Linked DNA regions of Homo sapiens. The protein of the gene in region 1 interacts with the protein of each later gene in a pairwise test. Each region holds a gene or a part of one and is shown on either strand. Other genes may lie near its edges. The genes, in order: CDH11 and ATF7IP.

Evidence for each region.
Region 2: the proteins of CDH11 (region 1) and ATF7IP interact in a two-hybrid assay, tested with the Homo sapiens proteins (one large-scale study listed by IntAct).

The regions. Positions count from the first base shown.
Region 1 is NC_000016.10:64,985,838-64,989,665, reverse strand, and holds part of CDH11 (cadherin-11 isoform 1 preproprotein), read left to right. Parts: intron 1-1,321; coding exon 1,322-1,509; intron 1,510-3,828. UniProt on the Homo sapiens protein: Cadherins are calcium-dependent cell adhesion proteins. They preferentially interact with themselves in a homophilic manner in connecting cells; cadherins may thus contribute to the sorting of heterogeneous cell types.
Region 2 is NC_000012.12:14,372,102-14,375,929, forward strand, and holds part of ATF7IP (activating transcription factor 7-interacting protein 1), read left to right. Parts: intron 1-3,828. UniProt on the Homo sapiens protein: Recruiter that couples transcriptional factors to general transcription apparatus and thereby modulates transcription regulation and chromatin formation. Can both act as an activator or a repressor depending on the context.

The DNA.
Region 1 (3,828 bases):
CACAATGGTCTATTTTACGCAATTTGGCCTCCACTTCCTTACAGCCCTTCTCTCTCACCAGAAGGCTGTAGTCACTCTCCTCCTCTTGCTCCTCTGCAAGTATTCAGGATCTTCTCACCTTAGGGTTTTTGCCATTTGCTAATCACCTGGCTGGTAGTTTTTATCCTGCAGATATGCACGTCATTGTCTTCCTCAGTCATTTTAGATTCCTTTTTCTAAAGAATGTCTTCTCCTACCACACTACGCAAAACCAATCTCTCCCTCTTTCTGCTTATCACCCACACATTATTAACACAAGCATGCGTGTTCAATCACACTCATACACATACACAAACTCACTCACAAATAGCTCACATTCATACACACACTCACACTCTTACACAACAGATTCATGCCCACACAATCACTCATGGCCACTCACACATTTACCCCCTCACCCTCACACACAATCATGCACTTACACACCCACAACCACACACCCACTCTCAGAACCCTCACCCTTTTACCCTACTTTATTTTCCTTTTTCATTGCAGTGACATCAGAGTGTGTTTACATTTGTTTTTATTTTTTCTCTTTAGTCGGCCTCATTAAGAGAGGAATCTTGACTGTTTTGTTTAGTAGTAAACAAAACAAGCAAACAAAACAGTGTCCTGGCACTAGGACAGTACCTCCATGTACAGTATTAGGCTCCCAATAAACATTAAATAAATATATAGGAGGGTCACACTGCAGGAAAGCCTTCTGGAGAAGGTAACGCATGACCAACTTGTGAAGCAGGCAAGTTGCGAAGGAGGTGAAATAAGGGGAGTGTCGAATATAGAGTTAGACAGGGAGGGATGTTAAAGTTTGCATTTTTAAAGTAACTATGGAGCTGTTGAAGGAAGGCTTTTAAACAGAGAATTTTTTTTTTCTGGGCTCTTCGCAATACCATAAGTGAGCCTTGGAGTTAACTCATGGACCATCCTGAAGACATGAAAAGAAGCTTCAGCTATTTTGCTAAATGAAGACATGCATGGTTCTCCATCATTACCTGATGGGAAATGTAACAGAGCATTGTTTTTCTCCCTTACATGTGGCAGGTGACCCCAGCATTTCACCTGGACCCAGATATTGTTTTATCACCCTTCGTAGAACACATTCTTTTGACAAGCAGGCCATGTGGGATCCTCCTCCCCACATCCACTCACTTCTTTCATGTTTTCAGTCAATAGAAAGTTCAATTTCAAATCCTTTGAGAAATTTATTGGGATTCAATGAAATCTATAGTCTTACAGCTGCCAAATAAAAGAGAAAATAAAAATAGATGTCTTCTTCTTCTAGGCGTATACCAGATGTCTGTGTCAGAAGCAGCCGTCCCTGGGGAGGAAGTAGGAAGAGTGAAAGCTAAAGATCCAGACATTGGAGAAAATGGCTTAGTCACATACAATATTGTTGATGGAGATGGTATGGAATCGTTTGAAATCACAACGGACTATGAAACACAGGAGGGGGTGATAAAGCTGAAAAAGGTGAGTTAGGGTAAGGAATCAGACGTGTCAGTGGTATGGCCTGCTCTGCCAAGGCAACACTGCAAGAAACAGGGAGGCGACGGTTAAGAAATGAGAATTTGCGAAACCAGGGGCTGACCTGACTTTGTAGTTGAGCTCTGAGCTCTGGAAGATCACAGAATTGTATTCCTTTCTGTTACTGCAGAGAAGCTGACAAAGGGGCTGGTGATACCTGCCTGAGATTGCTAGTTAGTTCTTAAATGTTTTCCGATGGAGGGAAGCACAGTTCTCCCATGGAGGGAAGGACAATGAGATAAATCTAGATTTTGAAGAAGCAGCCCTGAGCATGCATGGAATTCCCCCCTTAGCTCTGCCACACTGAATCTGTTAGATAAGCTGTTCAGAACTCTTACTGTTTCAACATTCAAGATTCACTGCATTGCTGGACCCTCTGTGAAACTGAAGCCTTCTCTACTTGTTTTTATCTCAAGTGAACCTGGAGAAGCAACAATAATGGACCTTCTCCCCTAGTCAAAGAGCCTGTGGACCTCCCCTCATAGTCAGTCTCCAAAAACATGTATCTGGAATTAATTTATTACAAAGAGAAGTTTAGTGTTTCTTCTTTTTTACATGCGCTCAATACTGACTACTGGCCAGACACAGCACCATCCTCTTACAAACATCATTTCATTTACTTTTCACAAAAACAAACAAAAGTATGAAGTAGGTAGTGTTATCCCAATGGGCAAAGAGACCTCAACTTAATTTTGAGGAGATTGGGGCTCAGACAGATGAAATCATTTGACCCAGTCACTGTCATATAGCTCAGGCATGCCGACCTGGAATTCACACCTTAGTTATTCTAGAACAACTTCCCTCTCAAGACATTTTGAAAACAGCTGGCCTGGAAAGCGTTTGTAAAGAAGAGCCAGATAAGATTCACTTCCAAGTGAAGAAATAATTCCCGTACATTCTAAAAAGGTTTCCCCCCGTGATTTACCACTTGAGAAATCAACACCTCTCCATCATGAAAGTGTATGGAGCATTAAATCGGAATTGGAAGATGGGATTACCTTGGTTTTAATCAAGCGTTCATTTTCAACTTAGTTTTATAGCATGAATATTAAACTCCTTGGTGCGATGGAAAAGACTGGACTCTAACACTGATAGAAAATTAATTTGAAGCATCAATAAAGAGGCCAGTAGCTAAAGAGGAGGGAAGGACCAGTGGGGGAAGACAGGTCCTGAAAGGAATCTTTCAGGTGGGGGAGCAAGGAGTGACCTGTGCTAAGAAACTGACCTTTCACAGACTTTTAAAGTATGTTGGGGTTGGGGAAAATATTATAGAGCACAAAACAAAGAAAAGGTAGGGGGTGATTGTTATAAAAAAAGAAAGAAAATGAAGGATATGGAAATTGGGGTGAAATTTGGATACTTGGAAAAGTCTACATTAATGGATGAATGGTAGGACCGAGGAAGCCTAATTATCAACCACAGGGAGCTAGGGCAGTCACTAATTCTGGTTTCTCCTCTGGAAAAGTAGCTGTGTGAATTGTGTGTTGCCTAGAGCTGTCAACTTACTTCGTTAATTAATATTACTATCTCTTCTGCTTGACACTGACATATGAACATTGACATCAGCAATTCCTGCCTCCCATCCTTTGCTGTTCATGTAATTGGGTAGTTGGTTATGCTAAGGTTGTCACCTGTTTTTAGTGTATTCAGGGCATAAACACACACTGTATCTCTGAAATCCTGAAACATTTAAATCACCCCCATGGAACTCACACGTCGCAAATGAGCTCTCTGCATATGATTAATTTGCACATTTGCCTCCAATTCAGTGTGTTTATTCTAGGCAAAGGAATAATCTTCTATAAAGCACTGATGCTTAGGTTTTAAATAGTGTAAGATGTTATTGCATTTGTAAAAGAACATTTGCTCAAACTTCTAGCACAAAGTTCCAAATGTCCACCGGGGGAAAAAAAAGAAAAATTATAGATGAATTTAACAGAGTAAAAATATGACTCCTTGTGAAAGTCATTCCATGCAATTTAATACTGTAAAAGTCTATAGAGACATTATGGCAATATTTCTGCATTTTAAAGTATTTTTTAACTTAGTGTTTTTATTTATTTCCTAATTTATTCACCCATTTTTCCACCAAGAGTTATTGAGTTCTTACTATTTGTCAGGCAGGCCCTTTGCCAGAGGCTGGAAATCTAAAGTTGAAGAGGCAGAGTCTTGACCACAGGGAGTTCACAATTTAACAGGACAGTGAAGTGATACAATAATTAAAACCGAGAGGGTTTTCTCAGCCTTAGCAGTGTTGATGTCTAG
Region 2 (3,828 bases), on another chromosome or scaffold:
CTTCTTGCTTGTTTGACCTTATATTTTATTAGAGAGGCCAAGAGTATTTAAACATTACTTTGCCATGTTCTTTCTCAGATTGTCCTGCCATCCACAGAGTAAATCAGGGGCTCCTCCAGGCATTTTAATTTGTTGAAAACAAAGAAAATTAAACTTTTTATAGATGATTCAGCTTGCATGGTGGAAACCATTTTGTATTGGAGACAGAGAGTGAGTGCTGGGGAGCACTTTCAGTTAAGAATAAGTAGATCAGGGCTACTAGTGCTTGTTTATATGGTGTGAATGTTTCAATTTTAAATTTCGATCATTTGGAGTTTAGAATCTTTAAGAGGATGACTCAGGTACCTCAGCCACTTTTCAAAAAAAAAAAAAAAATACCATAGGCCTAAGGGAACAGTTATACCTTCCTGAGAGTCTTTATAGTTGGACCTATATGAATATGAGAATCTGGGAAATGAAGATGACTTATTAACTTTGCCATCAGAAATATGCACTTATTCATGTCTGCAGTTTTCCATTGCTCAGAATATTATAAGAAACATTTTGTGTTCTTTTATATCCAATAACTGGTAGTAACTAGCTGTATTTGGGAGAGAGGACCCCTTTGTATGATGGTGATGTGAGGTAGTAATGCCATAATGTCTTACTATATATGATCCGTTCTCCCTTTCTTTGTTGTTTGTATAGCCCTATGCTACTTTGGGGAAGTATTATCTGGTTTGATACCTAGAAATTATGTGTCCATCACTCTTGGCATTCTAATAATTTAACATTCTAATAAGAAATTTGATTTGTATGTTAGAATAGTTGTCCTCAGAACTGTCAAAGCTGTAAAAGGAACTTTCTTTGGTTCAGTAATTCTCAGTGATAATGCCTACCATTTTGTAGAAGGATAAAGCTAAAAAGATGGAAAGGGAATCTGCTGTTTTGAGGACCAGGAGAAAGAGTTTGATGGAACAATAAAGGATGACTTGACTGCTGCAGCTTATTCCCAGCTAAGGCTTTGGAGCCTTAGATGTATATCTGCCCTGTTACTCTTATTAGATAGAATGTCATAGGAAAAAGCATGTAAGGGAAAAGAGAGACTGCTTTTGAACTCTTTTATTTCCTTTTAGGTGGTAAATGTCAGAAGTGAATTCCATTAGAGTAAAAACTAAGCTGCCACAGTATAGGAGACTCCATTCCTGTTGTTTAAAGATGACACATGTTTTTTTCTCATGTAACCATACAAAGTAAGACTGTTTAGAGTTTGTAAGTGGTTTTGCCTTAACATATGGCTTCCATCACTAGGTGAAACATGATTACTCTCTAGTTTTACTAGCTAGAGGCAAGGAAGAAAGAACAATGGGAGTGCATATTCTTTCTTTTGAGAGCATGATATGGAAGTGGCACATAGCACTTTGACTCATGGTTTATGTGTGATCATTTAGTCATTGGGACATATTTAGCTGGGAAAGGAAGTCTGGGAAATATATCTAGCTGGATAATCATATGCTTAGCTAAAACTAGAGAATTTTATAAAAGAGAAATGGATATTAATGAATAGCATTTTCTGCTATATAAGGAATTGGGAGAAGTGGTCTCAAAGTACTTCATAATTTGGTACTGAAAACTATTTCTCTTTTAAGATTTAGGTTCAGTTATAGTATAACTGTATATTTTCCATTGAAATGGTATTTTGGGGGTTTTGTGTTCATGATTTGTGGTTGGGGTCCCAGTTATTATAAATATTTATATTTGATAGAATTCTTCCCCTCTCTGCTTGCCGTTGAAAACATTATGATTAGTTTTGCAAGAATTAGAATTTCAAATTTTTAAAACTCAGTGTAGTATTTTTGAACTTTACAGGTTAACTTGCTTAATTCAAAAGGACTGTAGATGAATCGAGTGACAATTGTTTGAATAGTTTATGTTTGCATTATTTTATCCAGATTTTTTTTTCTCTGTTTATAACTGTATGTATAAAATATACATTTTCCATGATGGAAAATATGACTTTTTTTTTTTTTAATTGAGACTAGGGTCTCACTCTGTCACTCCAGCTGGAGTGCAGTGGTGTGATCATGGCTCACTGTAACCTTGACCTCCTGGGCTCAAGGGATCCTCCTGACTCAGCCTCCTAGGTAGCTTGGACTACAGGCACATGCCACCAAACCCAGCTAATTTTGTAATTTTTTTTTTTTTTTTTTTTTGTGGAGATGGGGGTCTTGCCTTGTTGCCCAGGCTGGTCTTGAACTCCTGGGCTCAAGCAATCCTCCCCTCTTGGCCTCCCAAAATGTTGGGATTACAGGTGTGAGCCACTGTGCCTGGCCGAAAATGTGACTTCCAAGGGCCTTGTAATATACACAGGTAAAAAGATTGTGGTTGTAAATTCTCTGCATATAGGCAAAACTTACCTGATTAATAAGTAAGTAGTTAAAAGTAGCTTTCTACAGAATATGACAAGTAAAACAATATATATTTTTGTAGGGTACAGAAAGTGGTGAGAGTGTTGGAAGGAGATCAAGGAGATTTTATGGGAGTTGTATTTTAAGGAATGAATTAGACAGATAATACTAGTAAAGAGAATAAATAGTATGTTCAAAATCTTAGAGCCAGAAAGGAAGGTAGTGTGTTAGGAGAACTCTTAATAGCTCTGTGATACAAATCCTTGGTTTTTGTGAATAAAAGTCATAGTTGCCATGGCACCCACATAGTATGCCTATTAAAGCATGTTGTTGCTCTCAACTGGAAATTCTCTAATTTTTCTTTGCTTTACTTCATATATTTTTTAAAGGCATTTATTCCTTTCCACTTTTATATTTATAGTTATTTGTTTTTTGTGTAGTACTTTATAAGTTTCCTGGGGTTAGGAATCATATCTTATTGATATATCTGACAATTTTTTAAGACAAATCCTTTCTAATAAGGTATGATAAGACCACTATTAAAAGTGTAAGATTGCTTTCCACCATGCCTTGCTTTCCACCATGCCTCCCTTAATATTCAATAAATACTTGCTTATTGAAAGAATAGAATTCCTTCGTTTTAGGTGGAGGTGAAAAAAAAAAGGGAATAAGATATTCTAATTATTTTCTTTTATTTAACTCATTATCCACAGATGTCAGAACTTTTTTTTTTTAATCAAACATGTAATTTACTCAGATGGCAAATACCCACATGATGAATTGTCATGGGAAGATTTGACAGGCACTTTACATATGAAAAATAATAAATAGTTGCTTTTAGGAAAAACAGTTTTCAATGTCATCCATTAAGAACCAGTTGCTTGTTAATAAAAAGTTTCTAAAATATGACTGTGAAGAACCTACGTATGTAAATTAATAAGGGTTTGAGGAAAAGATGGAATGATATAATTATTTTGTATTTTAGGTTTGTATAATCCTCTTCCCCCACCAAACTTACTTTAAATGATTTAAACATTGAAAGATAAAAATAAATAAAAAAATGAAGAAAGAAAAGAAGAACAAAAGAAAAAACAAAAAATTTTCCTAAAATCAGTTAGTTATACAGTGAAGTGGAAAGAACAGTAGTTTTGTATTGGGACCTGGGCAATTAGTGTCTCCTCTCAGTGTTCTTTATCTTTAAAATGTGGTGTTACCACCTACATGGTAGTGTTGTGAGGGTTAAATATGATTAGATATATAAAATGCTTAGCATCTGTGCCTCACACATATCTCTAGCTTTAATCAATTGGTGAATCAATTAGTCAGTCATGAATATTTATTAAGAAGCAACTATGTGCAGGGAGCCCTGCAGTACAGGGAGATTTATGAAAATAATATTCTTGATTTCTGGAGCTAGAATGTAAATGCATTTAAAAAGTAA